Linked DNA regions of Homo sapiens. The protein of the gene in region 2 purifies or fractionates together with the protein of the main gene of each other region. This does not show direct contact. Each region holds a gene or a part of one and is shown on either strand. Other genes may lie near its edges.

Evidence for each region.
Region 1: the proteins of FUNDC2 (region 2) and SEC62 purify together in Homo sapiens (affinity purification with mass spectrometry; 2 studies listed by BioGRID and IntAct, with this or other methods). This does not show direct contact.
Region 3: the proteins of FUNDC2 (region 2) and FAF2 purify together in Homo sapiens (affinity purification with mass spectrometry; 3 studies listed by BioGRID and IntAct, with this or other methods). This does not show direct contact.

What each region holds. Positions count from the first base shown.
Region 1 is NC_000003.12:169,974,023-169,985,149, forward strand, and holds part of SEC62 (translocation protein SEC62), read left to right. Parts: intron 1-1,585; coding exon 1,586-1,694; intron 1,695-2,923; coding exon 2,924-3,029; intron 3,030-8,684; coding exon 8,685-8,889; intron 8,890-9,138; coding exon 9,139-9,231; intron 9,232-11,127. UniProt on the Homo sapiens protein: Mediates post-translational transport of precursor polypeptides across endoplasmic reticulum (ER). Proposed to act as a targeting receptor for small presecretory proteins containing short and apolar signal peptides.
Region 2 is NC_000023.11:155,028,512-155,039,638, forward strand, and holds part of FUNDC2 (FUN14 domain-containing protein 2), read left to right. Parts: intron 1-4,891; coding exon 4,892-5,042; intron 5,043-11,127. UniProt on the Homo sapiens protein: Binds directly and specifically 1,2-Diacyl-sn-glycero-3-phospho-(1'-myo-inositol-3',4',5'-bisphosphate) (PIP3) leading to the recruitment of PIP3 to mitochondria and may play a role in the regulation of the platelet activation via AKT/GSK3B/cGMP signaling pathways.
Region 3 is NC_000005.10:176,489,258-176,500,384, reverse strand, and holds part of FAF2 (FAS-associated factor 2), read right to left. Parts: intron 8,192-11,127; coding exon 8,053-8,191; intron 6,387-8,052; coding exon 6,301-6,386; intron 6,202-6,300; coding exon 6,110-6,201; intron 3,900-6,109; coding exon 3,722-3,899; intron 1,472-3,721; coding exon 1,300-1,471; intron 383-1,299; coding exon 239-382; intron 1-238. UniProt on the Homo sapiens protein: Plays an important role in endoplasmic reticulum-associated degradation (ERAD) that mediates ubiquitin-dependent degradation of misfolded endoplasmic reticulum proteins.

The DNA.
Region 1 (11,127 bases), on a different chromosome or scaffold from region 2:
TTATTTTCCTCAAACATAACTTAATTCAGACTTCTCTTAACTTTGGAAAAACCCAACATAGATAAGTTGGATAGATTCTTTTTTCTATTTTGCATCATTAGATTTTTTTTGCTTGAAACAGCTGTCTTTAGCATTAATTCTTAGCATCTTAGATTCTTGCCAGATTATTTTTTACTATTATTTGTCATTTTATTCTTTAATGAAGCAGCCCTTCCTGAAATCATTCACATTTAGATTATATGTTGCTGGAAATACTGAATGTTCTGTGTATTGTGCTTAAGCATGCAATTATAGACAGTAATTAAGTACAGTGCATTTGTTTCAATAGCTTACAGCAATAAGACAGCTTTTGAAAGTTTATACATAAGATGTATACAAAGATAGACTGCCTTCATTTTCTTCAGTACGTGAGTAGGGAAAATAAATTCACAGGAGGAATTGTCAAAGAAGTTCAGAATGAAAGGGAATAAAGGGAAGATGGGGAATGAGAAACAATGAAGAAAATAATAGAAAATTTGGGAAAAGATATAGAAGAAAGAAAGCAGAGAAGGATTAAAACGGCCTTTCCAAAACGACTCTTTGTCAGTGCACTTCCATTAATCACCTCTTCAAATGAGATAGTAATAACTCTTTTTGCATTTTTCATTTTTGCCTCACCCTTACTGGAGAAGAGAAGATGAGAAAGACAGTCCCAGGAGTGTCTGGTATCTGCAGCCACAGGGGGAAAGGAAAGAGAATACAAATTGTCATTGTGTCAGTAGTTCTTATGGCTACCACATTGGGGGCAGCTGTCATTGATTAATTTGAGAACTCCTTCTGCGATCTGTTGTCCATTGTTCAGGATACATATCTTTGGCTGTTATTTTAACATTTATTTATGACACTTGTTTCTACTTACTTTGACATTTGGATACTCACTATTAGCAACATCTTATCTTTTTAATTACTGTTTTGTGGCTTATAAAAAGAGACTATAGGCCGGTGACGATGGCTCACGCCTGTAATCCCAGCACTTTGGGAGGCCTAGGCTGGCGGATCACTTGAGGTCAGGAGTTCAAGACCACCCTAGCCAACGTGGCGAAACCCTGTCTCTACTAAAAATACAAAAATTAGCTGGGCATGGTGGCAGGCACCTGTAATACCAGCTACTTGGGAGGCTGAGGCAGGAGAGTCACTTGAACTCAGGAGGCAGAGGTTGCAGTGAGCCGAGATCGCACCACTGCACTCTAGCCTAGGCAACAGAGTGAGACTCCATCTCAAAAAAAAAAAAAAAAAAGACCGTATAAGAATGAAAGTGAACTGGTACAAAGTAGTTACCATTGTGGAAAAAACAACTCAAATGCCTCATAGTTGAAGCCAAGAAGCAGACAGGCTTTGCCTCTATCAACTTATATTTGAAAAACGTAGTTTCTTTAAATCTCCATTTTTGTCTTTTGAATACTTTATTAGGTCGCTCCAGAGAAAGCTTGAAAGCAAGGCCTGTACTCCACTTGAAAAGATTCATAAAATAGATTTGTAAATTATTATTCAGCGCATGAATTTCTCAAGTATATGATTATACTAAATTAATATTCATATGTTGCAGGAAGTTGGTGAACCATCTAAAGAAGAGAAGGCTGTGGCCAAGTATCTTCGATTCAACTGTCCAACAAAGTCCACCAATATGATGGGTCACCGGGTTGATTATTTTATTGGTAGGATTATATCAGTAAAATCGTATTAGTGTACATATGTTATGAAGTTAACCTACATTTGGGATATGTAGAAGTTTTAAAAGTGCTTTCCAAATGTGATTGTTCTGGTGATGGACATATGGCAGTTGATTATTCTGTTCTTTTCTTTTATGATTGAAAATGTCTATAATAAAAAGATAACATGTTTTCTAATAACAATTGTTGGAAATTTTTTTAAATAGGATTTATTTTCAGTGTTTTAAAATACTACCTTTTGTTTAGATAGTATGCGTACTTGGAACTAAGAGCACTGGCTTTTTTTCCCCAAACAATGTCATTATAAGCTGATGTCATTTATAACACCAGAGCTTATAAGTAGGGGTTGAGTTTGCCTTTCTCATCAATTAAAAGTGAATTGCAGCTGGGTGTCGTGGCTCACACCTATAGTACCAACACTTTGGGAAGCCAAGGCAGGAGGGTTGCTTGAGGCCAGGAGTTCGAGACCAGCCTATGCAACACAATGAGACCCCATCTCTACAAAAAAATTAGATGAGTATGATGGCATGCGCCTCTGAAGTGAGAGGATGGCTTGAGCCCAGGAGTTAGAGGCTGCAGTTAACTATGATCCCACCACTGTACTCCAGCCTGGGTGACAGAGCAAGAACCTGTCTCTTAGAAGAAAAAAAAAACTAAATTGCCAGTGTAGAGGAAAAGTCCTTTATCGTCTCTTTCTTTACTGTTTTTAATGATTTGACATTCATTACAAGTTTTAAAAAGTAGATGTGCTAATCTCTTCAGATATAATATGTTTAGCTGTTTCTTGTGACAGCAGTGGATTGTTGACAGAGCTTCTTCCTCAGTGTATTAGAGTAAAACTTGATGAGAATTTTTATTACTTGCAGGGAGTGGTGAACATTTTGGTTTATCTACATATGCTTGTGATTAATAAGAGTGATAGTTACATACAGATATTTTAAATTTTTGAATATTTCCCCATTAATTTAACTTGCTTTAGTTGGTCTTTCTGAATGCCATTATTTCCCAACATTACTTTTAAAAGATACTTAATATAGTTCACAAGTTGAGGTTTTGGGGAACTACTAATCATGATCATGTTAGATTTAGTTTTCTGTTGAGTTTGGTTTTCTTTTTTGTTGCCAGAGTGTTGAAATTTTACTTTATAAAATATTATTTAGATAGACATAAATCCCCATGTATGCTAAATTTAAAATAATGAATTTCTTCTTTAGCTTCAAAAGCAGTGGACTGTCTTTTGGATTCAAAGTGGGCAAAGGCCAAGAAAGGAGAGGAAGCTTTATTTACAACCAGGGAGTCTGTGGTTGACTACTGCAACAGGTACTGTTTATTTCTTAGTGAAGAATAACATAATAATTTTAAATTTTCTTCATAGTCCTGAAGCTCCTTACATCATTAAATGTAGTGATACTACAACATAACTCAAATACTGTTTTCACATGTAACCTGATTTCTTTGGTACCTCTGGAAATGTGTTTGGTATTAGACTATTATACTTTTAACTGTATATAATTTTTATTTATGTTCTATTTTATATATTTGTGAGCCCTACTGAAGGGTCAGCAACAAAAGTCATATACCAGTGCCTACAGTAGAAAAGAAAGTTTTTTCTTTTGTAGAGCAAATTGGTTGAGGAGTCTTTTTTTCAAAACTTTTGCAGGAATTCCTATTAGCTGTGTTACCGCTACTTTTTTAGTGCCTGCACCCTGAGCCATAAGCCTCATACCCTTTCCTATTTGGTTCAGTGTTTGCTAATGTAGTATTTCTTCTAAAATCAAGGAAGCTGCAACATCTACCTTATCTTTTTCTGAGAATTTCAAGATGAAATACAGCTAATTCAGTAATATACATATATTTTTCATAATAGATACTTTTTCTGTTTTGAAAAAACTTTTGATGTTAAGTGGTTTACCTAAAAGACAAAATCACCTTCCTTTTGGAAGGAAGTATGCTGGTTTTTCTTTCCATTTCTTTTCTTTTTTTTCTTGGTTTACTTAATACTAAGCATTTTCTTAATATATGTTAACTAAATTTTGTTTTCATAACACTAAAGCTTATCTTTTGGGATTTTAGATTATTTTATGTGTACTAATATTTTATTTAATGGCACCTAAAGTATCAGCCACATAAGAACCCTCTTAAAAACCACTATTTCACAACCTGGTTTCTTAAGCTGTCAAGTTAAAGAATTATTGAATATTTCTTAAAATTCTTAGTTGCCAAAGACTAGAGGTTACTAACAGACCTTTTAGAAACAGTAGGTTTCGGCCAGGCACAGTGGCTCATGCCCGTAATCCCAGCACTTTGGGAGGCCGAGGCAGGTGGATCACAAGGTCAGGAGATCGAGACCATTCTGGCTAACAAGGTGAAACCCCATCTCTACTAAAAATACAAAAAATTAGCCAGGTGTGGTGGCGGGCACCTATAGTCCCAGCTACTCGGGAGGCTGAGGCAGGAGAATGGCGTGAACCCGGGAGGCGGAGCTTGCAGTGAGCCGAGGTTGCGCCACTGCACTCCAGCCTGGGCGACAGAGTGAGACATTGTTGAGACAAGGATGAGCTAACACTCATGCAGTTGATATTTGCTTGTCTTTTGTAGCAACTTGTCTAGTTAGAATTAGCTCCAGCAAGCATATATCCAGGGCAACTTGAATCTGCTCGTGGGGAAAAAATAAAAAGGTGAATAGAATTAGCTCCACGGTACAAACTTCCAGGCTGGGCACAGTGGTTCACGCCTGTAATCCTGACACTTTGGGAGACCAAGGCAGGGAGATCACATGAGGCCAGGAGTTCAAGACCAGCCTGGCCAACATAGCGAAACCCCATCTCTACTAAAAATACAAAAATTAGCCAGGCGTGGTGGCATGCACCTGTAGTCCCAGCAACTTGGGTGACTGAGACATGAAAATAGCTTCAGCCCGGGAGGTGGAGGTTGCAGTGAGCCGAGATCGCACCACTGCACTCCAACCTGGGTGACAGAGCAAGACTCTGTCTTAAAAACAAACCAAAAAGTACAAACTTCCTTACCTGCCACAAAACTGATGTATTTTTTACATGTTGTGTAAAAATTAAGAGATGCTACAAATGCAGAAACTGGGGCACAGAGAACTTAAGTACTTTATCTAAGGCTACACAGCTAGCAAGTGGCAGATCTAGGGTTCTACATCTAGCAGCCTGTCTCCACAGTCTGTGTTCTTAACTACCGCTCTATACTGTCTCCTCCAACAAAATGACGATGCATTTAATGGAGCTATTAGATCTGTAAGCCCAAATCTCTGAGTAGAGCAGCCAGTATGAATCCACATTTTTTGGCTTTTTAGGAGCCTTGGTACCTTGTTATTTGAAAAGCTCAAAAGACCTGAGTACAGAGAGTGTCCAAAGACACTCGATTTTCATTGTATACGCTCTTCCCACTGATGTCAGATTGTTTGAGTCCTTTCTGCACTAAAATAAATGAGAATAGCATAACTTTAAGGTCTCCAGAGCCACTTCTAATATAACCGTAGAGTCTTATTGGCCAGTTCTCATGAGTTGCTGCCCAATAGCAGACAAAATCACAAAGGGTCTCTTGACCAGTTTCTTTTTTTCTTTTTTTGGCATCCTCCAATACTGTCAGTTTTTCTGAGGCAGCTAAGTGGCATGAGGGAGTCTGAGGAAAAACAAAATAGGAAAATGTAGGATGATAAAACAATCTTTTCTAATGTGATCTATACCTTTTTATGGCCTATATCATGAATGAACTCATACATACTAGGTTAAGTCTCCACAAGACTTTGTATCACTGACCCCCAATCCAGTTATGTCGTCCTCAGTCTTGTGCACATGCCACACTCATTTTTTCTTCTAGTCTTTTTCCTATCATAACTTGCCACTTTCCCTAAACGGTTCTGTTTCCTCTGTCCCACCTGCCTCTCAAAATCACAAACAAATCCCTCAAGTCCTTCCTCTACCGAATGTACTCTTCCCCAGGCCCTCCAGCCTTCATCAGCCTTTGTATCTAAAGTTCTACTGAGTTTATCAAGTTAGTACCTCCCAGTTTGGCCCTTAACTATTTTAGAATTGCTACATATGTGTGAGTTTTTTTAAAATCTCCTGCCAGCTAAATCTGAAAACAATTGTAAGACTGTTTTATACTTTATTGTAACTCCATAGCAATTACCACAGTGTGAGCACTTCATAAAAACTCACCTTTGCCACATTGGTGGAAGTCCCCAACATGTCTGGCATTTAATAAATGTTTGTTAAATCTGAAAAAAAAATGGAAGTGAAGGAAAAAAATACAGAAGTAATTTTTTAAATGTTTTAGAAGCTGTTTTAAAACCACTTACTCAACAAATAGTCTAGGCTCCAGGAATACAATAATAACTATGACTTGGTCCCTACATCAAAACATATTCTGATCTGTTAGGGAAGATTTATAACTAATCACAATGCAGTGTGTTGAATAAGGAAGAGAGAGATGGTGAAACTATGAAGAATGACATCACACAGAAAATGTTTTAAGTAAATTTTGAAACATAAATAGGTGATTACCCAACAAACAAGAGAAGAAAGGAAATTCATTCCAAGCAAAGGGCATAGAACACACCGAGATAGGAAAGTATGAGTAGTTGTGTAAAAATGTCAGAGAGTTTTATGTTAGTAATGTGTTCTATGTCATGGGTTTAAAGCCAAACAAACGGAGGCTCTGATACTATACAAATGTTAAATAATGTCAGTCTCATCTTTCAACCTAATTGTGAAATTATTTTCAACACAATTTGATTGAAAGTTAATAATCTACTTTTCTTTCGTGGGGGTGGGCAGCTGTGCAGGAAAATTGACAGAAGCAGATGATCCTGCTGGTTCTATTGCCTTCAGTATCTACTCATCAGGGAAAAGGCTTTTTTCTACTAAAGTTGCATTGTTTGTTTTTAAAATTCTTTATTAAGAATCATTTTTTCCACTAAAGTAAATTTAAGAAAATGGGAACTGTTGCAAATGATTTAGAAGAAAATCCAAATTACTAATAATGTTGCTTCGTAGATAGCCAGCCACATTACCATTTGAGAATATATACTTCAAGTATCTGTATGTGTACACATGTACTCTTAATATATGGACATGTATATTAACTGCATTATAAAATGCTGCTTTTTCAATTAACATATGAGGAACAGGATGTATTTTTATTTTCATTTGGAGTGGAAATAAATGTTCCTGAAAGAAAATCTGGAAATCATATAAGTGCACAAAGAAAATTAGAATATATTTTCATTATAGATTTTTTTTGTAAGACATTCTGGAGTAAAAAATGTAAGACTACACTTCATATTCAAATATGCCACTACTATTCTTAAATCCCACTTTGTACTCATAAGTAGTTAATCATTAAGGTCTCATTTCAGATTCTTGTTTGTTTATATATGTATATGTATTCATAGCAGATATGATGGTAGCATTTTGAGGGGCAGTTTGAACATTTGCACAATTATATGCACAATCATATTTACATAATTTAAAAATAGCTCTTCCAAATAAGTAGTATGGGCCAAATGAGGAAACCTAGAAATTAGCTTTGTGGAAGTGCTCATAGGCTGGACCTAATTGGGGAGCAGATGGAAGCCCAGCCAGGCAGGTAAAACATAGAAACATAGGTGCTTCAGGGGACTGAACACAGTGACAAAAAGAAGTGGTTATCTGGGCAGGAAGAAAGCATCTAGTTAACAAGTGCTGTGATGTGCTGGAGCAGGCACCAGTGAGGTGTAAGTAGAAAGGTAGCTAGATAGTCACCATTAGCAGGCACCAGTGGTGGTAGTGAGACGTAGCTTCTAGATTGTATTGTGGCAATTAGACATTATCAAAGCAGGAATGGAGAAACCAATCAGAAATTCTGAAACTAGAACATGAGATTTGAAAAAGTGACTTTTAGATGACAAAAATAAGGGCAACCCAATTTCTTGAGTAGGATTGTAAGGTTAAAGAGAAACTACCAAGCAACGTTGACTTAATCTGGGGTCAGATAAAAAATGAATAAAGCAAGGATCTCTCTCTCTCTTAAGAAGTTTACCGTCTAGTGAAGGAGCAAACAACTACTACAAATTATATAGTGAGTTAGAAGATAAGTGCTATGGATAGGGTAACAGGAAACGAGAGAATGGGAAGGTGGGCTTATGTTTTAAACAGAGTAGGTTGTGGTTGAGGGAAAACTTGAAGGAAGGGAGTGAAACAAAAGGACCTGCTTATTTGGGGGAAGAGCATTCTAAGTAAAGGGAACAGCCAGTGTGAAGGCCCTAAGGTGAGAATATAAAATATAGTAATAACTGATAAAAAGAGAGAAAACAATCTATTTAGAGAGAAATTAGTGAAACCAGGAATACATCATGTTTTGCCAAATATATTGCACATTTTTCAATTTGATGTTGTGCACGTCCTTTTCAGAGTCCAAAAATCTCACCTTAGTATATTTAATCATTGCTTAATTGAAGATAATCATTACAGTGGCACACTGAATTGCGAAGTACTTGGAGAAAAAATAACACCAAGAAAGCTGAAAAGACATTATTTGGACCCATCAAATCATCACTTTTAATCTGTTAACATTTCTTAAACTGTTTATTTTCTCCTTTCTTTATTACGTCAGCTCTTGCATTTGAGACTTAACATAAAGTGAAGCTGAGTCTTGATTATATGAACCCAGAAAGAGTCTTTATATGGATAATCTCAAACCTATAATCTCTTTTATACTTAAGGTACATCATTAAAAGTGAAAATTATATTGAATATCACTGAGTTTTGACAACTTTTATATAATTGACTGTAAAGTGTTTTGATTTAGTGGTAGAGTTGACTACTTTTTCACGGGCATACTAGTTGTAATTTCTCTTGTGTTGCTAATTTATGCCTTCCTTTGCTTATTTTATTCAGGTCTTGATATTTTTGCTTTTCAGTCTCTATCTATATGGGGAGTGTAATGCCATACCTGTTTTTCCCAAAGGCTTTTAAAGAAGCAGTTTTTTCACCGAGCCCTAAAAGTAATGAAAATGAAATATGATAAAGACATAAAGAAAGAAAAAGATAAAGGAAAAGCTGAAAGTGGAAAAGAAGAAGATAAAAAGAGCAAGAAAGAAAATATAAAGGATGAGAAGACAAAAAAAGAAAAAGAGAAAAAAAAAGATGGTGAAAAGGAAGAATCCAAAAAGGTGAGTTAATCTAAAATTAAGTAAAAATTTAAAAATCATTATGTGCACATGAACACTACTGGCCTATGAGCACATTTAAGTATTATGCAACACCTACCTGAGATAACTATATTAGAGTTGTTATAAATACCGTGGTTGAGAATTTTTATTTCTGTGTTACAAATAGTCAGTGAAAGTTTTTTGACTGTATGAACATCATATTTCTTGCTTACTTGTGTTATTTCTTCTGTCCAACTTGTGTTTTCATAGGAGGAAACTCCAGGAACTCCTAAAAAGAAGGAAACTAAGAAAAAATTCAAACTTGAGCCACATGATGATCAGGTTTTTCTGGATGGAAATGAGGTGAGAGTAAGCCTATAACTAGAAGTTCAGTTTTCTATAGGAGTTTTTAGAAAGATGTTTGATGCCTTCACTAATAAAAGGAAAAATTTTGAGAAATCTAATTATGCTCTTAAATGTATAAAAGCTACTCCATTTTTAAAAATCAATAATTTCTCTTATTTAGATTTTTAAAAGTCAGATTTGACTGTGAGTGATAGGAAACCTGAAATAAAAGCATCTTAATACAAAATAGATGCTTATTTCTTTTTTATCAGTGAAATCTGTAGGTAAGCTGTACAGATACGTCAGCTCCATGGTGGATCCCAGCTCTTCTTTTCTCCTCTGTCTGAGGCTTCTAGCTAAGGTTACCTTATGGTCCAGAATGACTGCCAATCTTATATCTGCATCGAAAAGAGGAAAGGAGAGTGAAGAATATGTCTCCTCTTTAAGGAGACCAGTTTAAGGACACTGTCCAGAAAGCTGGTAATTTCATTTCTGCTTGAATTCCATTGGCCAGAACATAGTCACATGGTCATGCATATGAGAAGTAAAATCTTGGAAATGCACTTTTTATACAGGATGATTATTTGCCCAGCCGAAATGTAGGGTTTCCATTATTATCAAAGAAAAAAGAGCAGAATAGGAGATAGCTACAAGTCTCTATCTCTTACAGAATGTAAGTCAGACACATCACTTGAGGGGCTTAAAATTTTTAACATTTCTTGATGCTTTATGCTTATCATTTGTAATGGAAGATTTGTATGGTGGTAGCCTTCCATAAAGACTGCTTAATTCAGTCACTTCACCAGTACGTAAACATGAGTTATATACTGGGCATTGAACTGTTGTGAATTTCAGGATATATCCTTTCCTGTTATACCTATACAATAGTAACATCTATAAAGTCATGGCTCCTAGGGTTGTGTGTTTGAAATTCTTACTTGCATGAGACTATCTAGAGTGGGATTGTGGGGGAGGATTATATATCTATAATAAAGTGTCCTCAGGTGACTGATGTGAACCCCTTGTTGAGAACCACTGTAATAGAAATTTTTATTTTTATAGGCGTTGGGAATAGCTTGATAAGTAGGATAAAATCTCTTAATGGTCTAGCAAAGATACAGGCACTTAAACATGTTAATATAGTACAGTGTGGTAAGCATTAATGGTGTGAAAGCACCAGGTAGGAATAGTTAATTTAGTCAGGAAGGATAAGAAGGGTCTAAAGGACATTTGAGCTTAGACTTGAAGATGACTGGCAGATTGCCAGGCGTGCCAGGAAGGAGGTTAGGTCTGTTAGGGAAGGAAACAGCCTGAGCAAACGCATGGGTGCTTGGTATCCTGAGAAGCCTAGATTTTATTCTGTAGAAAGCAGCATGCACTCCATAACTTTTAAAGTTGTGAAATATCTTTTTTAAAAAAACATGTTTTTTTAGAATGGAAACTGGCAGAAGTAATATCTGTGAATCTGATTCCCAAGGAAATGGGCAGAGTAAAATAAGAGGTTAAAGTGGAACCTCTGGTGTTAAAAATTGAAGAACCACGTTGGAAAGACAATAAAGAGTTCTGGTCAATATAGAAATAAGAGGGAAGAGTACTGTTATTTATAGAAACTAAGAAATAAAACTGAGTTTTATGGATGAATGATCAAACAGAGTTCTGATCTGAATGAAGTAAATTTCTGTTGTGTAAAATAAGAGCCTGATAAAAGTAAATTAAGTTTTGAAGTAGTGGTTCCCAGCTTATGGGCCCTCCATGGAGGAGTAGGCAATGAAATTAATACAGTCATAGAGACTATGTTCACCAAGCATGATCTTTAATAATTGATCTTTGTGTCTTCTCAGGAGAGAAAAGTGTGGAGTTGAGTGATACTAGATCTGTAATAGGGCCTGGCTGGAATCTGTCTTAACTGCGCTT
Region 2 (11,127 bases):
CCATGGAGTACCCAGGTACTCAGACATCCATATTTTGTTCTGCTAAATGGGCGTCTGTGATGTATCCTGAATGAATTCTTGAATTATATTTTGTGTATGGTTTAAGGTAGAGGTTGAGAGTAGTTTTTTTTGAAACACAAATATATAGTAGTTCTAACATCATTTGTTGTTTCCTTCATTGAGTTACCTTGGTGCTAAGTTATTAAAAATCAAATGACTATATGTGTGGATCTATTTCTGGATTCTGGATTCTCTTCCATTGCTATATTTGGGTATCCTTGGGTCAGTTTGACAGTGTTGAATGTCATTGCTTTATAAGCCTTGAAATTAAGATAGTTGTATATTATACTGTAGCTTTATAATGAGCCTTGAAATTCCTTGAACCCTCCTCTTTCCCTTGCCCGCCTCCGCCCCCAGGATTATTGTGGCAGTTTGTATTTTCCTGATTGCAGCAATATTTTCCATTCCTTATGGTCTTTTTCCTAGTGACTTTGACACTCCTCCCACCCAGGGGTGGGATCTATATTCCCTCTTCATGAATCTGGATGGGAGTTTGTGACTGACTGCCTGTTCCTACAGAATGCAGTGGAAGTTAACACTGCATTTGCTCTCTCCCTTTCTTGGGACTTTCACCTCCTGAACTCAGCTCCTATGCTGTAAGGAAGCCTAGACTGACTCACATAGAGTAGCAGCCTATCTATCTGTGTGAGTGTAGAGTCTTCAGACCCAGCCTGTAAGTCTTCTGGCTAAAGCCTCAGACATGAAACAAAGACAAACCACAGTGCTGTGGCTGAATTCCTGATCCACAAAATCTGAGAGCATAATATATGATTGTTTTGCTTCATGAAGTTTTGGAGTAATTTGTAGTACAGCCGAAGTAACTGGAACACTGCTGGGTTTTTTTGTATCTTCATATGAATTTTAGAACCAGTTTGTCAATTACATAAAAACCTACTTTTTTGCCGGGCGTGGTGGCTCACTCCTGTAATCCCAGCACTTTGGGAGGCTGAGGCAGGCGGATCACCTGAGGTCGGGAGTTTGAGATCAGCCTGACCAACATGGAGAAACCCTGTCTCTACTAAAAATACAAAAAATTAGCCAGGCGTGGTGGTGCATGCCTGTAATCCCAGCTACTTGGGAGGCTGAGGCAGGAGAATCACTTGAACCTGGGAGGAGGAGGTTGTGGTGAGCCGAGATTGTCATTGCACTCCAGCCTGGGCAAAAAGAGCAAAACTCTATCTCAAAAAAAAAAAAAAAAAGAAAAAAGAAAAAACCTACTTTTTAATTGAGATTGTATTGAATATATAGATCAATATATGGAGAGAATGAACATCTTAAAAATATTGAGTCTTGCAAAACATAAACAGTATATCACTGTTATTTTAGGTCATCTTCAATTTCTTGGCAGTGTTTTGTAGTTTGCAGTGTTTTCTAGTTTACAGTGAACAGGTCTTGTGCATCTTTCATTGAATTTACTACAACATAATTTTTGCAATTAAAATTATTTTGTTTTCCAATTCATCATTTCTAATACACAAAAATTCAAATGACTTTTTAATATTGGTCTTATAATGTGTGACCTTGCTTCTGGTACCTTTTTGTAGATTTTTCTGGGTTTTCTATATACACCGTTATATTATCTGCCAATGAAGACAGAATTATTGTTGTACCTCCTTTCTAATCTCTTTGACTTTTATTTCTTTTCTTTTGTTGCACTGGCTAGGAACTCCAGTACAGTGCTGGGCGAGGTGGCTCACACTTGTAATCCCAGCACTTTGGGAGGCTAAGGAGGGAGGATCACTTGGGGCCAGGAGTTCCAGACCAGCCTAGGCAACAAAGTGAGACCTCCTGTCTACAAAAAAAAAAAAAAAAAAAAAAAAATCAGTTGGTCATAGTGGTGCACAGCTGTAGTCCAGCTACTGGGGAGGCTGAGGTGGGAGGATTGCTTGAGCCCAGAAGTTTGAAGTTGCAGTAATCTGTGATAGTGCCACTGCACTCCAATGTGGGTGATAGAGTGAGACCCTGTCTCAAAACAAAACAAAAAACAGTTGAATAGATTTTAGGGAAAGAAAAGTGTTCCATATTTCACCATTAAGTATGATGTTAGTTGTATATTTTTCATAGATGTCCTATATCAGATTGAAGAAATCCCTTTCTATTCCTATTTTCTACTTTTTTTTTTTTTTTTTTTGAGATGGAGTTTCGCTCTTGTTGCCCAGGAAAATGGGCAGTGGTCTGATCTCGGCTCACTGCAACCTCCGCCTCCCAGGTTCAAGCAATTCTCCCATCTCAGCCTCCTGAGTAGCTGGGATTACAGGCGCCTGCCACTATGCCCGGCTAATTTTTGGTATTTTTAGTAGAGACGGGGTTTTACCATGTTGGCCAGGCTGGTCTCGAACTCCTGACCTCAGGTGATCCACCCGCCTCGGCCTCCCAAAGTGCTTGGATTATAGGCATGAGCCACCACGCCCAGCCCCTATTTTCTACTTTTTATTCTGATTTTTTTCTTTGATTTTAAAGTATAAAATTTCTGTAATTATTATTTTTTTACAGTAAGTATTCATTTAGATTTATCCACCTATTTGCCCATTCCAGTGTCTCATTCCTTTCTGCATTTCCATATTTCCATGTGGCATCATTTCTTGTCGGCCTGAATAACTTTTGTGTACCTCTTTGAATATTACTTCTATCCCATTCTTTCTAATCTTCTGGAACTCCAATTACATATATGTTTAATCTTTTGAGCAGTTTTTGATCATTGTTATTTGCTTACTTCAGCATCTTGATCATCACTGGTTCTGTTTCTGTTTCTGTTTCTTTTTCTTTTTTCTTTTTGGGACTGAGTCTCGCTGTGTCACCCATGCTGGAGTGCAGTGGTGCGATCCTTGGCTCACTGCAACCTTCGCTACCCGCGTTCAAGTGATTTTCCTGTCCCAGCCTCCCGAGTAGCTGGGACTACAGGCACATGCCACCACGCCCAGCTAATTTTTGTATTTTTAGTAGAAACAGGGTTTCACCATGTTGGCCAGGCTGGTCTTGAACTCCAGACTTCAAGTGATCCGTCCCCCAGGCTTTCCAAAGTGCTGGGATACAGGCGTGAGCCACCGTGCCTGGCCTGCTTCTATTTCTTTTATTTAAACAAATTTTGTTTCCTTTATATGGCTTTGCCTTTGCATGGGTAGTAGTCATTTTCTATTGTTTGTTACATTATGTGTGAAAAGATTGTACACACTCCATGCCAGATGAAGTTGATCATTTGAGGTCAATTTTACAGTAAACAGCTTTGAATAGTACATTGCTGACATTTCATATCAGACATTTCTTAGTGCGGTGTGTTTCCAGGGAAACAGGGCTGGGTATAGTAGGGGAGCCTGACATTATCTTCCCACAGAGAAAGGGATTGACATTTTGTTAAGTCTTTCTCCATGCTTGGGCAAATCATTTAACTTTGGAACCTTCATTTCATTTTTTTTTTTTTTCTGAGACGGAGTTTCACTCTTGTTGCCCAGGCTGGAGTGAAGTGGCGCGATCTCGGCTCACTGCCACCTCCACCTCCCCGGTTCCAGTGATTCTCCTGCCTCAGCCTCCCAAGTAGCTGTGATTACAGGCGCATGCCACCATGCCCAGCTAATTTTTGTAGTTTTAGTAGAGACGAGGTTTCACCATGTTGGCCAGGCTGGCCTCAAACTCCTGACCTCAGGTGATCTGCCCACCTTGGCCTCCCAAGGTGTTGGGATTACAGGCGTGAGCCACCACGCCTGGTGCCTTCTTTTTTTTTTTTTTTTTTTTTTTGAGATGGAGTCTCATTCTTGTTGCGCAGGCTAGAGTGCAGTGGTGCGATCTTGGCTCACCGCAACCTCTGCCCCTCAGGTTCAAGTGATTCTCCTCCCGAGTAGCTAGGATTACAGGCATGTGCCACCACCCCCGGCTAATTTTGTATTTTTAGTAGAGATGGGGTTTTTCCATGCTGGTCAGGTTGGTCTTGAACTCCCGACCTCAGGTGATCCACCTGCCTCCGGCCTCCCAAAGTGCTGGGATTACAGGTGTGAGCCACCATGCCTGGCCTTCATTTCTTAATTATAAAATTGAGTTAATAAGTAGTACCTACCTTATTCTGTGGATTAATTAGATGTACATGATTAATGTTTAGCACATTGCCTGGTAAATAGTAAGAGCTCAATTAAACATTACCCTCTCATCTTCATTATCACTGGAGATCCACGTAGTACTTAGAAAATTTGTGGATTACTGAATAGCATTGAGCTACTTCTGAAGAGAAGGGGCAAATTTGTTTCATTTGGGATGCATTACTGGCAGTTTTTTATAGGTCTTTTTGGATTTATTTATTTATTTGAGATGGAGTCTTGCTCTGTTGCCCAGGCTGGAGTGCAGCGGCACTATCTCGGCTCACTGCAACCTTTGCTTCCTGGGTTCAAGCAATTCTTTTGCCTTAGCCTCCTGAGTAGCTGGGATTACAGGTGCCTGCCACCACGCCTGGCTAATTTTTGTATTTGTAGTAGAGATGGGGTTTTGCCATTTTGGCCAGACTGGTTTCGATCTCCTGACCTCAGGTGATTCGCCCACCTCGGCCTCCCAAAGTGCTGGGATTACAGGCGTGAGCCACCGCGCCCAGCCTTTTTTGTTATTTTTAAATTTGAGAGGACAAACTAGAGGACTAATTTGAGATTTTCTAGGTTTTTCCCTGTAATATAGACATTAGTATTTGCTGATTTTAGTCTGATTTTCCAAAATTGCAACTTAGAATAAATTTACTATTTAAAATAGAATATTTGGAGGTTTCTTATTACATTTATGTCTGTTTCTTTAAATATCTCAATCTAGTTAGGTATAAAAGTAAATATTTTCTTATTTAACGTATTACTTCTTGTAGGAAACTTTGAGGGAAATTTTGAGTCACTGGACCTTGCGGAATTTGCTAAGAAGCAGCCATGGTGGCGTAAGCTGTTCGGGCAGGAATCTGGACCTTCAGCAGAAAAGTATAGCGTGGCAACCCAGCTGTTCATTGGAGGTGTCACTGGATGGTAAGTGATGTGAAAGATGTCCACTGTCTTTTGTGCATGATTTAGTATTGCAGTTATAGGTACCATCATCTCCTTTAACCAGTGAAAACACATTGGCTTCTGTGAAATTGGTCACTTAATGTGGAGCATGTATCTAAACATCATCTTAAAGTACCATTTAATGGTTACACATAATGATTGTTTCCTATATGCCAGGTTCTGTTTGAAGTATTTACATAGATATCTCATTTCCTTCTCACAACTCTGGAATTAGTACTGTTATTTTCTATCCTCATTTTATAGAAACTGAGGCTCAGAAAGGTTAGTTTGCCCAAGGCCACATAGCTGGTAACTGGTAGAATAAGGAGCTAACTACTTATTAGCTATGTCAGATGATAACTTAATGTGACACAGCTTATGGTTTCATTTGTAATAAATTCAAAAAGTAATAGCAAATTTCATAGGTGAATATTGAATCCATTAATCTCATAGACTCTTTACATTTGAAAAATTTTATAGCACCATATAGCAAATATAGAACAGCACATTTAACAGGTGTACATTTTAGCAAATACTTGGAGTGAACACCTATGTAACAACTGCTAAGGTTAAAAAAAACGTGGCTAGCGCCCTAGAAACTCGAGAGGTTATTAAGCAGTTATTTCATTGCTTTTCTTTGTAGTTTTAACACCAGTTATGTCACTAAATAACATACTGTGGTTTACCTGCTTTCCACCTTAAAGTAAATGCAATCAGTATGTATTCTTTTGAGTCTTGCTTTTTTCGCTCAACCTGATGTTTCATATATTCAACTACATTGTGTATAGTTGTAGTTTCTTCACTTTCACTTGTATTTTGAGTTCCATTATGTGAATATACCACAGTATATCCAGTTGATGACTGATATTGGAGTTGTTTCCATTTTTGGCTAATACTATGCTTATATGAGTATTAGATTTCCCAGTGTATATGTGCATACATTTCTGTAGGGTCTGTACCTAGAAATTGCTAGGTAATGGGTATAGGTATCTTCAGCTTCACTAAATAATGTCAAACCACCTTCCAAAACTGTTTTTAACAGTTTACAGTCCCAGCAAGGACCAAATGAACCTGTTGTTCTACATGGTGGCACTTGATTTTGCCAGGCTATTAAATTTTTAAAAAATTAGTTAATTTTTCCTTAGCGAGGTAATCAAGTTAAATCCAGACTATAAAAATTTTACCAGTCTGGTAGTTAGGTAGTAGTATTTCATGGTGGCTTCATTTACATTTCCCTGAGTAGGAGTGACATTGATCGACTTTTACGTATGTTTGTTGACCATTTGGATCTCCTCTTTCAGTTCCACTCTAGTTTTTTTCCTCTGAAGTTGTCATTCTTTCCCTTGTTAAGCTGTAAGAGTTCTTTATATATTCTGAATATTCTCAGTCCTTTGTTAGTTGTGTGTATTATAGATATTTTCACTCATTCTGTGGTTATCTTTTCGTTTTATGGTATCTTTTGATGAACTGAAGATCTTATTTTTAATATAGTCAATTTTATCAATCTTAACCTTAATGGTTAGTGATTTTTGTGGCTTATTTAAGTAATCTTTGCCTACCCCATGTTTCAGAACTTTTATTATTTGACCTTTCACATTTAGATTTATTATCCACCTGGAATTGTTATTGTGCTCAGTATGTGGTAGATTCCTTCTTTTCTTCCCCATGTGGAATACCCATTTGTCCCAACTTAATTTATTGTGAAAGCTATCCCTTTCCCCGCTGCTTTATGTGAGTGTGTGTGCGCATGCATATGTGTGTGTCTGCTATCTTGTTCTTTAGGAACATCTTGGCTATTTTCTTTATCTCTTAGTTTTTAAATTTAATAAATAGGTATATTATAAGTTGCACATATTTAAAGTATAAAATTTGATACATTTTTACATATGTACATGCCCATAAAACCATCACCACAGTCAAGATAATGAACATACCTATCACTTCAAAAGCTGCTTTGTACCTCTTTGTAATTCCACGCTCTTTCCTTCATGCCATCCTCCCGCCACTGATCTGCTTTCTATTACTATAGATTATGTTTTCTAGATTCTTTTTAGAAGTGGAATTACATAGTATATATTCTTTTTTGTCTGGCTTCTCTTATTCACCATAATAATATATTTTTTTGTTTTGAGACGGAGTCTTGCTCTGTTGCCCAGACTGGAGTGCAGTGGCACGATCTTGGCTCACCGCCTCCTGGGTTCAAGCAGTTCTCCTGCATCAGCCTTCACCATAATAATTTTGAGATAATCTGTGCTTTTCTGTTTATCAACAGTTCATTCCTTTTTATTGCTAAGTAGTACTCCATTGTATGGATGTACCACAATCTGTTTCTCCATCCACCTTTGATGGACATTTGAGTTTTTTTTTCACTTTTTAGCTGTTACAGATAAAACTTCAAGTTTGTATACAAGTGTACAAGTCTTTGTATGAACATATGCTTTCATTTCTTTTGGGTAAATATCTAGGAATAGTATGGCTGAGTCACGTAGTAAGTGAATGTTCTAAATTTACAAGTACCTGCCAGTTTTTAAAGTGCCTGTACCATCTTACATCTCCACCAGCAATGTGTGAGGGTTCCAGTTCCTCTGCATCCTTACTAACACTTGGTATTATCTTTTTGATTACGAACATCTTAGTGGGTATGAAGTTGTATCTCATTGTGGTTTGAATTTGCGTTTCTCTAATGACTAATGATGTTGAGCATTTTCACGGGCTTATTTTTTGCCATTCATATATCTTTGATGACTTATTTGTTCAAATCTTTTTCCACATATTTTTATTGGGTTGTTGGTTTTCTTTCACTGCTGAATCGTGAGAGTTCTTTAAATATTCTGGATAGAAGTCTTAGATATGTGATTTGCAAATATATTACTTCTCTGTAGCTTTTCATTATCTGAACTGTACCTTTCAAAGAGCAGAAGTTCTTAATCTTGAAGTGCAGCTCTTTTGTAGCTCCAGCTTTTGGTGTCATGTCTGAGAATATTTGCCTAATCCAGGGTCACCAAGATTTTCTCTCGCTTTTTCTAGATTGTATATAGGTTCGGATTTTATATTTAGTTCTGTGATCCATTTTGATTTACTTTTTGTATATAGTATAAGGTAGGAATCCAAGTTTTTTTTGCGTATGGGTATCTAGTTGTCCCCACATTTGTAAAAAAAAGACTGTCTTTTTCTCCACTGAATTGTCTTTACACCTATGTTGAAAATCAGTTGACTATATGTTTTTGAGCTCTTTGTACTGCCAAATTGATCTAGGTGCCATTATCATGCTGTTTTGATTACTGTAACTTAGGTAATGCAAGTCTTGAAATTTTGTTTTTCATCAAAGCTATTTTGAGTATTCTAGGTATTTAGCATTTCCATCTGAATTTTATCTTGTTTTTATACACTCCTCCATATGAATTTTAGAATTAGGTTGCTGCCAGTTTCTGCCAGACACCCGATGAGATTTTGACTGGGATTGCATTGATCCATAAACATTGGTGTATCTCTCCAATTTGTTTAGGTTTTCTTTAATTTCTCTCAGCAATGCTTTGTAGATCTTACACATCTTATATCAGATTTATTCCTAAGTATTTCATATTTTTGATACCATTATAAATGGTATTACTTTCAAAATTTCAAGTTGCCATTGTTCATTGCTTGTATAGTATATAGAAATGCAATAGTTTTCTTTGTATATTGATCTTGTATATTGTAGTCTTGCTAAAAGCCACTTACTAGTTGCAGAGTTCAGGGGTCCCCAAGACCACTGTCATGTTTGATAGTTCTCTAGGAGAATTCACAGAACTCAGAGCTGTTCCACTCAGGGTTATTTTTTTATTTTTTATTTTTTTAACAGAAAATGATACAGATTAACTCAGCCAAGGGAAGAGGCACATGGAATAGGGTATTGTGGAGTCTTTATATTTATATTTATTTATTTTTTTTGAGACATAGTCTCGCTCTCTCACCCAGGCTAGAGTGCAGTGGTGTGATCTTGGCTTATTGCAACCTCTGCCTCCCAGGTTCAAGCAATTCTCTCGCCTCAGCCTCCCAAGTAGCTAGGACTACAGGCGTGAACCATCACACCGGGCTAATTTTTGTATTTTTAGTAGAGTCAGGGTTTCACCATATTGTCCAGGCTGGTCTCAAACTCCTGACCTCAAATGATCTGCCTGCCTCAGCCTTCCAAAGTGCTGGGATTATAGGCGTGAGCCACCACACCCAGCTGAGTCTTTACATGTAAAGTAGGTTTCTTGTAGGTTCCATATAGGTGGTTGTTAATTTTTTAGAATCCAATTTGACAGTCTCTTCCTTTAAATTAGGGTGGTTAGACTATTTACATTTAAGTTTATTTTTAAAATTCTTTTAATTGACTAGTAAAAATTGTAGGCTGGGTGCAGTGGCTCACACCTTTAATACCAGCACTTTGGGAGGCCGAGGCAGGTGGATCATTTGAGCTCAGGAGTTTGAGACCAGCCTGGGCAGCATGGCGAAACCCCATCTCTACAAAAAATAGAAAAATTAGCCGGGCGTGGTGGTATGCGCCTGTAGTCCCAGCTACTTGGGAGGCTGAGGTGGGAGGATGGCTTGAACCTGGGAGGGGGAGGTTGTAGTGAGCCAAGATCATGCCACTGTACTCCATCCAGCATGGGTGACAGAATGAGACCCAGTCTCAAAAAGGAAACAAAACAGCAACACCAAAATTGTATTTATTTGTGGCGTACATGATGTTTTGATATATGTATACATTCTGGAATGGCTAAATCAAGCTATTTAACATGTATTACCTCACATACTTACCATGTTTTTGTGGTGAGAACACTTAAAACCTACTCTTATAGCAATTTTCAAATATATAATATGTTGTTATTAACTGTAGTCACCATGATATACAGTAGATATCCTAAACTTCTTCCTCCTAACTGGAATTTTTGTGTCCTTGACCAACATTTCCCCAACCGCCCCACCCCACAACCTTTGGTCACCACCATTCTCTGTTTCTATGAATTTGACTTTTTTTAGATTCCACATATAAGTGAGACCATTTGGTATTTGTCTTTCTGTGCCTGACTTATTTTACATAGCATAATGTCCTACAGGTTAATCCATGTTGTCACAAATATCAAGATTTCCTTTTTAAGGGTTGAACAGTATTCCATTATGTAATATACCACATTTTCATTATCCATCTGTTGATGGACACTTAAGTTGTCTCTATCTTGGATATTGTGAATAGTTGCAGTGAACACGGGAATGCAGATACCTCTTTAATGTACTGACTTCATATCCTTTGGCTGTATACCCAGTAGTGTGATTGCTGAATCATATGTTATTAGTTCTACTATTTTTAATTTATTGAGGAGTCTCCATACAGTTTTCCATAATGGCTCTACTAATTTACATTCCTACCAACAGTGTACAAAGATTTCCTTTTCTCTACATCCTCACCAACACTTGTTATCTCTTGTCTTTTTGATGATAGCCATCCTAACAGGTGTGAGGTGATAGCTCATTGTGGTTTGCATTTTCCTCATGATTAGTGATGTTGAGCATTTTTTTCATATACCTTATTTATTGGCCATTTGTATGTTTGTATGTCTTCTTTTGAGAAATGTCTATTCAGGTCCTTTGCCCATTTTTAAATCAGGTTGTATTTTTACAATTGAGTTGTTTAATCCCTTGTATATCTTTTATATTAATCTCTTATCAGATATATGCTTTGCAAATATTTTCTCCCATTCTTTAGGTTGTCTCTTCACTCTGTTGATTCCTTTGCTGTACAGAAGCTTTTTAGTTTGATGTAATCCCATTTGTCTATTTTTGCCTTTTGTTGCCTCTGCTTTTCGGGTCATATCCAAAAAATATTTGTGCAGACCAGTGTCATGGAGCTTTCTCCCTGTTTTCTTCTAACAGTTTTACAGTTTCAGGTCTTATATTTAAGTATTTAATCTGTTTCCAGTTGATTTTTGCAATGGTTTGAGATGAGGGTCTCTTTTGCATGTGGATAAACAGTTTGCTTAGGACCATTTTTTGAAGAGACTATCCTTTCCCTGTTGTGTGTTCTTGGCATCTTTGTCAAAAA
Region 3 (11,127 bases), on a different chromosome or scaffold from region 2:
TAATTAAACAAAAACTTAAAAATTGCTTTGAGTTGGAAACTAGAACTGAAGGAGCCTACAGCAGTCCTCGGTACTCTTCCTGGTGTCCACGGATGGCATACCCATCTCTCTCTCTCTCTCTCTGTTCCCTGTTCATCAGAGCAGCAGATACACCAACACCACTCTCAAGAGTCAGTAAAAGCTCCAAATCTATAGCCCAGATGCTACATACACTTCACAGAACTTAGGTGGTCCTTACTGTTAGAGACTGTGAAAAGTGGAATCGTCTCTCTACTCGAGAATCATTAGGTAATTTGAAGATGATCTTGACACTTTCAGGGTCATCAGGGGAAGGTTCAGGGGGCAGGCATTCCAACTTCCTTTCCTTTTCCTCCTGTAAATTCTGCAGAGACACAAAGCAAAGGTGAGGCTACAGCTCAAGAAATAAATACAATGACCATGTAGCTTTATTACGCAGTCGTCAGAAGAAAAATTAATGACTAAGTATTCTAAGAAAAACCTCTCAGGAATAGTCAAAAACAACCTAAATTTAAAGTACAATTGCATCTCATGTATTCTTTATTATGTCTAGGTATTTATTTGAGAAAAAGGAGAAAGGGAGCAGGGTGCCATGGTATGTGCCTGTAGTTCCAGCTACTTCAGAGGCCACAGCAGGACTTCTTAAGCCCAAGAGTTTCAGGGTGTAGTGCTCCATGATTGCACTGGTGAATAGCCACTGCACGCCAGCCTGGGCAACACAGTGAGACCCTGTCTCTTAAAAAAAAAAAAGAAATAAAAGGAAATGACTAAAAGACACTGGTTATAGGTAAGCGGTAATACATAATCAAATAAGATAATGTATATCTCAGTCTGATTGCTAGGGAACAAAAACAACAACAAAACAAAACAAAACAAAAACAAAAAGATAATGAGTAAAATGCCAAATCAGCTAATACTGGTATTAAGAATGAATATTTAGGGCCAGGCATGGTGGCTCACGCCTGTAATCCCAACACTTTGGAAGGCCAAGACAGGCAGATCATGTGAGGTCAGGAGTTCGAGAGCAGCCTGGCCAATATGGCAAAGCCCGTCTCTTTTTTTAAATTTTTATTTAAAAAAGAATGAATATTTAAATGGTATGAAAAATTTAAATCACCCCTAATTCCAACATGTTGTAATTTTTTCTTTCCTTTTTCCTTTTTTTTTTTCCCTCTTAGTCTGTTTAAGGTGGCTATCATTTTTTCCTTTCACACTTAAGACCAAGATGGCAAAGTCTCGGCAGTTTGGGAACCACAGGGAGTAAAGCCACACGTCCATTACCTGCCGCCGTCTCTCCTCTGCCAACTTTTGCTGTTGCACCTCCTCCTCCTTCCGCCGCTTACGCTCCCGCTCCTCCCGTTTCTTTCTTTCTTTCTCCTGGTCAGCTCTGAGAGAGGCCAGGTAGGCCTCATCCTGCTGTTGTCTCAGCACTTGGGTCTGGTTTCTTTCTTCCCTGTGAATAGATCAAAAGCAAGAGAAGAAAAACAGCACTCTCACAAAGTTCTGTGTTTTCTTATATTGAAATCTTCTGTGTGTGTGTGTGTGTAAAAATGTTGATATTCTTAGCAGATGACGATTTCACACTGCCATAAGGGATTCCAAAAGCAGAGCGTGGCAGAATCTGAATAAGCCACCTTTTTTCTCAGTTTAATTTGGCAGAAAAGGAAACAGCAAGCTTTCCTCTCCTCTTTTAAAATAAAACTTTTCCCCTAATTCTAACAAATGTGACACAGTACTGTTATTATGAAGGGATCATCAATATCATATTTTACAAGTAAATACCATTTTGGGTGACTGCATTTTTGTACTGATCTCATAAAACCAAAACACACACATATATATCCATACACACATTGTAGCAGATCTGAAAATGTAGAGTTTTCAGAGTCATTCAGAGAATCACTAATCAAAGATAAAACATTATAACATTTGGCATATCTCCTATTTTCTCTCCAACAAATTTCTGTTTTCTCTTAGCCAAAATATTTAGCCAATCAAAATAGTTGAACAGATTTTATCTTTAAAAATTAAGATAAAATTTACATGCAGTGAAATGCACAGATCTTAAATGTACAATTCAATGAATTTTGATAAATGTAACCATGTAATCACCACTCCAATCAAGACAGAACATTTCAGTTACCTCGGAAAGTTTCCTGTTCTATACATTTTTTTACACAGTTAAAATAACGCTATTATTTACAGGATTTTGATCTTGCATTTTTCTTTTTTTTTGGAGACAGGGCTAGCCTGTCACCCAGGCTAGAGTGCAGTGGTGCGATCATGACTCACTGCAGCCTCAACCTCCTAGGCTAAAGCAATCCTGCCACCTCAGCTTACAGGCGTGTGCCACCACGCCTAGCTAATTTTTGTATTTTTTGTAGAGATGGGGTTTCACCATGTTGCCCGGGCTGACCTCAAACTCCTGAGTTCAAGCAATCTTCTTACCTCAGCCTCCCGAAATGCTCGGATTACAGGTATGAGCCAACATGCTCGGCCTGATTCTGCATTTTTCTAATATGTAACAAGCATGTCCCCATGTTATTAAAAACTTTCCATAAAATTTAAGTTTGTTTAACTTTCTTGAGGGCAAGTTGGCATTACAAATCAAGAGCCTTAAAATATACTTATATTGATTGTCTCACCCAGAAACTGCACTTCCAGGAATTTAAATTTTAATCTAAGGAAACCATCACAAATTGCAAAAAATTATCTCCCTATATGCTAATTATAATAGTAACAAACCGAAAATAATCTAAAAATCCAACGAGAGTGGCCTGGTTAAATTATGATGTATTTAGATAATGGAATGTTATGCAGTAATTTTTAAAATGTGGCAGAATATTTAATGATGAGGGAAAAGGCCGTGATATATTCTTACATAAAGAAGGGTTGTAAAAAAGTATTATCCCAATTTTACAAATAAATGTGTACGTATATAGGGGTGTGTGTTGTGTATAAAATTAAAAAAATTTATAACAATGTTCAAGTGGTGGTAGGTTTATCAGTGATCTTAAATTTCTTCCTTGTGCTTTTTTGTGGTTTTAGGATTTCCTATAATTAATGTACATAACTTATGTAATGGAGAGGAATTATAACCATTCCACTTTTTTTTTTACATCGAAGTTCTTTATATTATATTCAGCTATTCTAAATGCCACAATATACATTCTTGAGCACAGAGGCCTGTCTTTGTTTATTCATTCATTTATTATTTTTTAAAGACAGAGTCCTGCTCTGTCATCCAGGCTGGAGTGCAGAGGCACAATCAGAGCTCACTGCTGCCTCGAACTCCTGGCCTCAAGCAATCCTCCTGCCTCGGGCTCCCAAGGACCTGGGACTACAGGCATGTACCACCATGCCTAGCTAATTTTTTCTTATTTTTTGTAGAGATGGGGTCTCGCTTTGCTGCCCAGTCTGGATTCAAGTAATCCTCCTGCCTCAGCCTCCTAACGTGCTAGGATTTCAGGTGTTAGCCACTGCACCCAGCCCTTGTCTTTATTTTGAACATCTCTAAGAACAGATTACCTGATATAGAGTAATTTAGGTCAAAGTATGTAAATATTTTGACAATAAATGGGCAAAGCTAAAAGCTAATAGCGGCCTGATGCACAGAAGAAGTCAGGATTGGTAGAGCCCCAGAGGTCAGCCCTCCAAATTTACAACTGGTCTCTCTCTGTTCCAGAAGGGAACTCCCTTGTACCTTTCTAGGCGTTCTGACACCAGGTAAGTCTGGTTAGCATCCATGATAAATGTCAGTTGGTTAATGAGGTCATCAGGTTGAATGAGGCCTTCTAGCCGTCCCACCACAGTCATCCTTCGATCCTTCAGCATAATCATGGCCAGGAATGGATAGGTGTTCTCTCGTAAAGCCTGTGAGACTGATAAAAAGACCCAACAGATCAAGGGCAGGACTTGACGGTGAAAAAGATCAACCCTTAGACTTTCCACAATGAGTGAGAGAGAACTGTTTTAATCCTGGTTGGGGAAGACGAGAGGTATCATTTAGTCTCCGCTTTTTCCCCGCCTCCTAGTTTCTTTCTTTTCTTTTTTTGAGCCAGGGTCTCACTATGTTGCTCAGGCTGGTCTCCAGCTCCTGGGCTCAAGTGACCCTCCCACCTCAGCCTCCTGAGAAGCAGGGATTACAGGAGTGTGCCACCATGCCCAGTTCCTCCCAGTTTTGTAATCTTTTGTTTTTGTTATCAATTTGCATGCCTATCCCTAGGTGCTTGACTAGAATAGGACAGGCTTTCCTGGTGGCGGTGTGGTTGTTGTGATGATGCCAGGGAAGGCTGCAGAGTTTAAGGATAATGTCTACTTGATGGTACAAAAAGGATCTATAAAGAATCTGGCACAGTTTTTCCCTGTACAAGGGCTCAAACCTAAAAGGGCACAAGGCTGCAAGTCTCAGCCTGATGATACTGATAATAATCTCCATCATCATTTTTTTTTCTCTTGCCTAATCCTTTCCTTATCCTTTCTCCCCACGTAACTTTTCTCCACCCTTAAAAAGGTTAGTTTTTCTGTTCCAAAGAAGCTTATTAATAGAAAGTTGAGGCTGGGCTGGTAGCTCCACCTTTAATCCTAGCACTTTTGGGAGGCGGAGGTGGTTGGATCACTTGAGGTCAGGGGTTTGAGACCAGCCTGGCCAACATAATGAAACCCCATCTCTACAAAAAATACAAAAATTAGCAGGGTGTGGTGGTACGCGCCTGTAATTCCAGATAGGCGAGAGGCTGAGGCAGGAGAATCGCTTGAACCCGGGAGGTGGAGGCTGCAGTGAACTGAGATCGCACCACTGCACTCCAACCTGGGTGACAGAGTAAAACTTGGTCTCAAAAAAAAAAAAAAAAAAATTGGTGTCCAAATGACCAAGATTTTTACCATAACAGAGTTTTACCTATGTTTTCCTTATGGTGTGAAATAAGAGATTTTATAAACTTCTATTAAAAAAAAATCCTTACCTTCCTTCTATTCACAACCTCCCTTCTGCCCCCTGCAAAGCCATATTAGAATGGCAAAACGCATGCAGGAATTTGGATGTTTAAAAACAATTAGGCTTAAGATTCAGACTCTGGGATGCAGGGACAACATCTGCCACATCTTTGGTTCTCAAGACATGGCACAGTATGTGGCATGCTAATATAAACTCAAAAGTTGCTGGATAGAAGTAGCCACAAAAATGACTACATTTTTCCTCACTGGATGCCTTCGTATCTTTTACTAACCGTCTAAAAATACTTATCTCCAAAGAAGAGTTATTGTCAGCAAAGATCTGAACTTTCCAAATCCATATCAGCACTCAAGGTACTCAAACAACTGACTCACTATGCAAGGGCTCTGTTAAAATCGTTGATGAAAAGAATAAACTCTTCAGTAAAAAGCCCATTAAGATTAAAAGCAAGCTGCTAGCCAAGACTGGGTATTTCTATGAATGTGGCAGGCTTTGGCAATGCTGAATGTGAAGAACGGGCTTTAGAATCTGGCAGACCCGACTGTACGCTACAACTTGCTAATTATGGCGGGGCACAGTGGCTCACACCTGTAATCCCAGCACTTTGGGAGGCTGAGGTGGGCTGCTCACTTGAGTCCAGGAGTTTGAGGCTACATGGTGAAACCCCATCTCTACTAAAAATACAAAAAAATTAGCTGGGCGTGGTGGTGCATGCCTGTAGTTCCAGCTACTCAGGAGGCTGAGGCAGGACAATCGCTTGAACCCAGGAGGTGGAGGTTGCAGTGAGCCAAGATCGCACCACTGCACTCCAGCCTGGGCGACAGAGCAAGACTCCATCTCAAAAAAATTTTTTTAATTAATTAAATAAAAACAAAAAAAATAAAACTTGCTAATTGTGTGATCTTCAGCCAGTGGCTTGAACTCTCTGAGCCTATTTCCTAAACCATAAAGCAAAGGTAATATGACCCCCCATCTCTCAGGACTGCTGAGAGGATTAAATGAGACAATATAAAATAGCAACTAGCGTCGTATCTACCACAGAACAAACACACTTGTAATAAATGGCATGGCATGTCTTTCCAGACTATTCCAAAGATACTCCAACAATCTCAATGAGGCAGAAGAAACATAACTTACCCCTGTATCCCTCAGGTTTGTTTGTAGAGCATGCCCAGAAGAGCATCCTAGTGTTTATTAGTGAAATAACTTCAGGTGCACAGAGTGTGTTGCTGTGGAAAGGTATGAAAAGGATATGAGAACAACTTGCTGACTATAAACTGTCACCAGAAAGAGTCAGAAAAGAGAAGGAAAATAATCAATCCACTTACCGACAAAACTCATCAGAGTCCTGGTGATCATCTCCATGAAGATAAACCAAAAGAAAGCGAAGCTCCCTTTTGGCATCGTTAAGTGCCTGTGAGAAAGAGAAGGTCACTCACTATTAAGAAGACTGTGCCTTGAGCTTATATTTAAGCTAAGGGTCCTAATGGATACAGTTATGTATTTAGGAACAAAAGGAAAAATAAGGAAAAAAGGTGAGCAAGAAATCAGAAAATTCCTGAGCTCCTACCTTCACACCCCTGGCATTGTTCTCCCTATAGAAACTCCACGCTAACAAGCTTTAATGAAAAGGTTTTAGTGTTGTTAGGATTCAAACTTAACAGACACATGAGAGTAGACAGGCTTACAAACACAGGTTCCCAACAAACCACAGAAAAGTCAGCTGCACCCACAGTCTAAGGAAGATAAAAACAGGAGAATCTGACCATATGAAAGGGAGGTGAGAATTTTTCTACTTCACAGCTACAACATCCTTGTAAGTAAAAAATAACTGCGAAGACAACCCTGATCCCAGGCCACATATCGAGTAGGAATGATGGACTGTACGATCCAAAGGCATTCTAAAGAGCATAGGGTGTAAAAGACTTTCAAAGACAAGGCTAGCGCCGAAGACTCCTGTGCGTGCTCCTGCATGTGCGTGCTCCTGAGCACATTACACTGTACGACTGCTGACATGGTCAAGGGTGGTCTACCCTCAGGATCATAGCAGAGAGGGTACACAGGAGGTGCTCATCTCACTCATCTCTGTATCTCTAGCACTGAGGACATTGCCTGGCATACAGTAGGTGCTCAGTTTTTGTTGAGTGTGGTGGGAACAGCCAGCGAGGAGACTGACTATGATAAAAAGCAGATGTGGGAAAATGAAAGCAGGAAGCAAGGGTGAGCATTTTTCTTTCTCCAGATAGATTCAGGAATTCTGGAGGCTGCATAATAGAACCCCCTTTTGCCTATTGCCACAGCATTCCCATAGTTTTCCCTATTCCTGTAGTGTTAATTCTATGTATTTCTCTGGCAAACTAGAGATATACCAAACACCCACAGAACTCTAATTTTTCCTCCCCTGAATGGTGAGGTCTTGAGTCAAAGGTCTACATGGCTGAGGTTGAATGAGATGTGCTACCCTGAGTCTATGGTCTATGTCCTTATTCAATTCTGTGAGAGATCAAAGAAGATGTAGGCTTTGCCTTCAAGGGGCTTTCAGTCTGGTAGCAGAGATTAGACACGAACACAAATGATATAGGAAAGAATATAAAATTGCTATCAATTTTTAAAAGCTATGGAAGAACAAAGGGAAAGATTAGTATTCTAGATGATGAGATAGGGCAGGACAGGGCACAACAATCAGGGATAGCTGTAAGTGGGGCGTGACATAATCTAGTTGAAGGACTGGCAAGATTCCAATTAGCAAAAATGTGAGGAAGGCATTCCACGTGGATGGACCGGCAAAAGCAAAGGCACAGAGGTAGGCAAGTACAGACTATGTTCAGGGAATGAGTCAGCTGGAACTGAGGGTATGGTAAAATAAGTTATGCAGAAAAGACCTCAAAAGAAGGGCAGCATTAGATCAAAGAGGGGCCAGCTAAAAGGTTTGGTCTTTTTTATTACCCACCCCTATAAGCAGTGAAGAGCTAATTAAGGTTTTTGAGTACAAGAAGGACATGATCAGTGCTGGGCTGTGCTCTCCTTTGAGGATAGAATCATTTCGGTAAGTTGGCATCTATATGGTTTATGGCACTGACCTGGCTGTACGTTCCCTGGTAGAAGACAGGGTGTGCCCTCCCATATTTCTCTTCAAAAGAGTGCATAAATGAAACAATGTCCCCAACGGGGTCAGTGACCCGGCTGCGAGGGTCAGGCCGTATAAAACGAAGAGCAAACCTGGGGAGGAAGGAATAAATATCACATGAATCCAGCTTACTACAGTGCATATCGAGTGGGCCAATTTGTACAGATTCCTGTAACAGAGCCAGAGGCACGGCAACAAAGGGAGGTGAACAGTCTGTGAGTGGACCATCAAATCCGAGAGTAGAGTCTGGTTCAAAAGCCATAAAGCAGCAAGTGTTATTCTATTGCCTGTTCAGGAAGAATGCAAACTACTGGGATTATAAATTCCAACACTGGCCTACATAAATCCTGAGTATTTTTTGTAGAACAATTTAGGGCTAGAAGGGTTTGGAAGGGAAGACACAGTATCCAAAAAGATCATGTGTCAGGCTATGCACCCAGACTCTCTAGAATGGCACCGTCTAAGTACTGTAGCCACTAGTCAAATGTGGCTATTCTGAATTTAAATCTATTACATACAATTAAAATTCAGTTCCTTAGTAATGCTAGCCACATTTCAAGTGCTCAACAGCCACGTGTTTAATGGCTTTCATACTGAACAGCGGAGATACAGAACGTTTCTATCATCACAGAGAGTTCTACTGGACAGTGCTCTAGAACAGAGGTCATTTTCTGGTTGTCCTACTTGCCCCTCCTTCTCCTTTCTGTTTTCCTGGGATTTTAAATATTGAGTTCACAACCCCAAACTATTCAACTTACGGATAGGAACTTCAAATCTGAAGTTGCGGTTATGACTTACTTGCTCTTCAAAGGGGCAAGTACCTTTTGCTTGATGATTTATGGTTGATGGCAACCATGGAGGAAGTTATAAAACTGCTCCACAGTACCCTGGCAGATGTGGAGTACTGGCAGCTCTTGTAAAGTGAAGAATACATACCTAATGGTACCACACATCTGTTTCTAAAGGGCCTACCCTATTTGTATAGTACCATTTATTTATCCTTTGGGTTTCCAGAGAAGGCAACAGGACAGAGGATAATGTGTTACCTAACATTAAACAAGCTGGTTGGATGATACAGCTGCATTAAAATTAGTAATACATGCCGTGCATATTTTCCCTAGAAAAGCAAACAATATTCATTTACTTAAAACGTTTTCAGCACAGACAAGGTGATTAAACTGTGATACTTTTCCTTAACAAAAAGTGAGTCAATTCATTATCCCAACAAATTCCCCCTGTGTATACAATTCTACTTGGAATTTCTCCCGAGTAATCAAACCAAATTCATTGACAACAACGTTCCAGAGCGAATTAAAAGCACAAAATGTAGTAAGTTGTATACGTGGGGGAATGGTTAGAAATTCATCAGAAGACTGATGTTTTAACTACTTTCTTTGAAATTAAGCATTTTAGAATTCTCTCTTAAAGCCTTTATTTTTTTTTCCTCATTACACAATATTCCCACGATCTACACAATTTAGGACAATCAGCTTTTTTGATTTTTTAGAAAAAAACAGAGATGTCAACTTAGTTTTCATTATGATTTTAAAGATTTTTACATGTTCATTCTTAAATAAAATGGGGATGGAAAGAGTACTAAGCAATTAGTGATCATGAAGAATGTTGCTAAACCAAGAAAGCCATTAAGTAGACAGCCTCATAAAACACCAAGGGTCCAATATAAAAGGTACTATCTGACCCTTGTACTTATGCAGCTGCTGGACCCACAACTTCAGCCTCTGCTCCCTAGAGGCAGGGTAAAGGCTGTCCCATATTTGAAGGGAAGTACAGGGAACCTGTACTTCCAGGGAAGGCCCAGACTACATATCCCAGCTCCATCTGCTGGCCTGGATGCCCTTGAACATTTAAGTTCCCCATAAAGCCTAGACATGGCTCTGGACCAGATAACCCAAGCCTGACATGCTAAGAAGTTGTGCCCCACTCATTTTCTTTTCTTTTTCTTTTTTTTTTTTTTGAGACGGAGTCCCACTCTCTCACCCAGGCTGGAGTGCAGTGGTGCGATCTAGGCTCACTGCAAGCTCCGCCTCCCGGGTTCACGCCATTCTCCTGCCTCAGCCTCCTGAGTAGTTGGGACTACAGGCACCAGCCACCGCGCCCGGCTAATTTTTTGTATTTTTAGTAGAGACAGGGTTTCACCGTATTAGCCAGGATGGTCTTGATCTCCTGACGTTGTGATCCGCCCACCTCAGCCTCCCAAAGTGCTGGGATTACAGGCGTGAGCCACAGAGCCCGGCCAGTTGAGCCCCACTCATTTTCTGGCCTTGGACCCTCTGTAGCTTCCAATGATGAGCTCTTTTAATGGTACATGAAGGAAGCTAGAAGAAAGGTGAAGGTATGAAGCAAGTGGGTATATACATAAAAGGGTTCCAGTGTTTGCAACCTAGGGGCTGCCAGAGCAAAGTGAAAAGGTACCGAAGCTGCCAGGCATGGTGGCTCATGCCAGCAATCCCAGCACTTCGGGAGGCCAAGGCAGGTGGATCACTTGAGGCCGGGAGCTCAAGATCAGCCTGGCCAACAAAATGAGACTCCATCTCTACTGTCTCTACTAAAAATACAAAAATTAGCCAGGCGTGGTGGCGCATGCTTGTAATCCCAGCTATCTGGGAGGCTGAGGTATGAGAATCGCTTGAACCCAGGAGGTGAAGGTTGCAGTGAGTCGAGATGGTGGCACTGCACTCTAGCCTGGGTGACAGCGACAGAGCAAGACTCTGTTTCAAAAAAAGAAAGAAAAAGAAAGAAAAGGTGTAACAGGAGTGTCTAGGGAGGTCCAACTATTGTGGGAGGAATCAAGGGCAAACTGGGTAATCTCAGAGCAAGAGAATTTGTTGGGATTGTGAGTAGTCAGGTGGAGGAGAAGTAGTTGAGGAAGAAAGTTCTAAGGAGTGTGAAGCTAGGAGATGATAGTGGTTAGAAAGGAAAGGGTGTGGACATCAACTAGGAAGTGTAGAGGTGACAAATATGGTGGGGGGGGGAGGGGGAGACAAATAAATATAGTCAGACTGGTTTT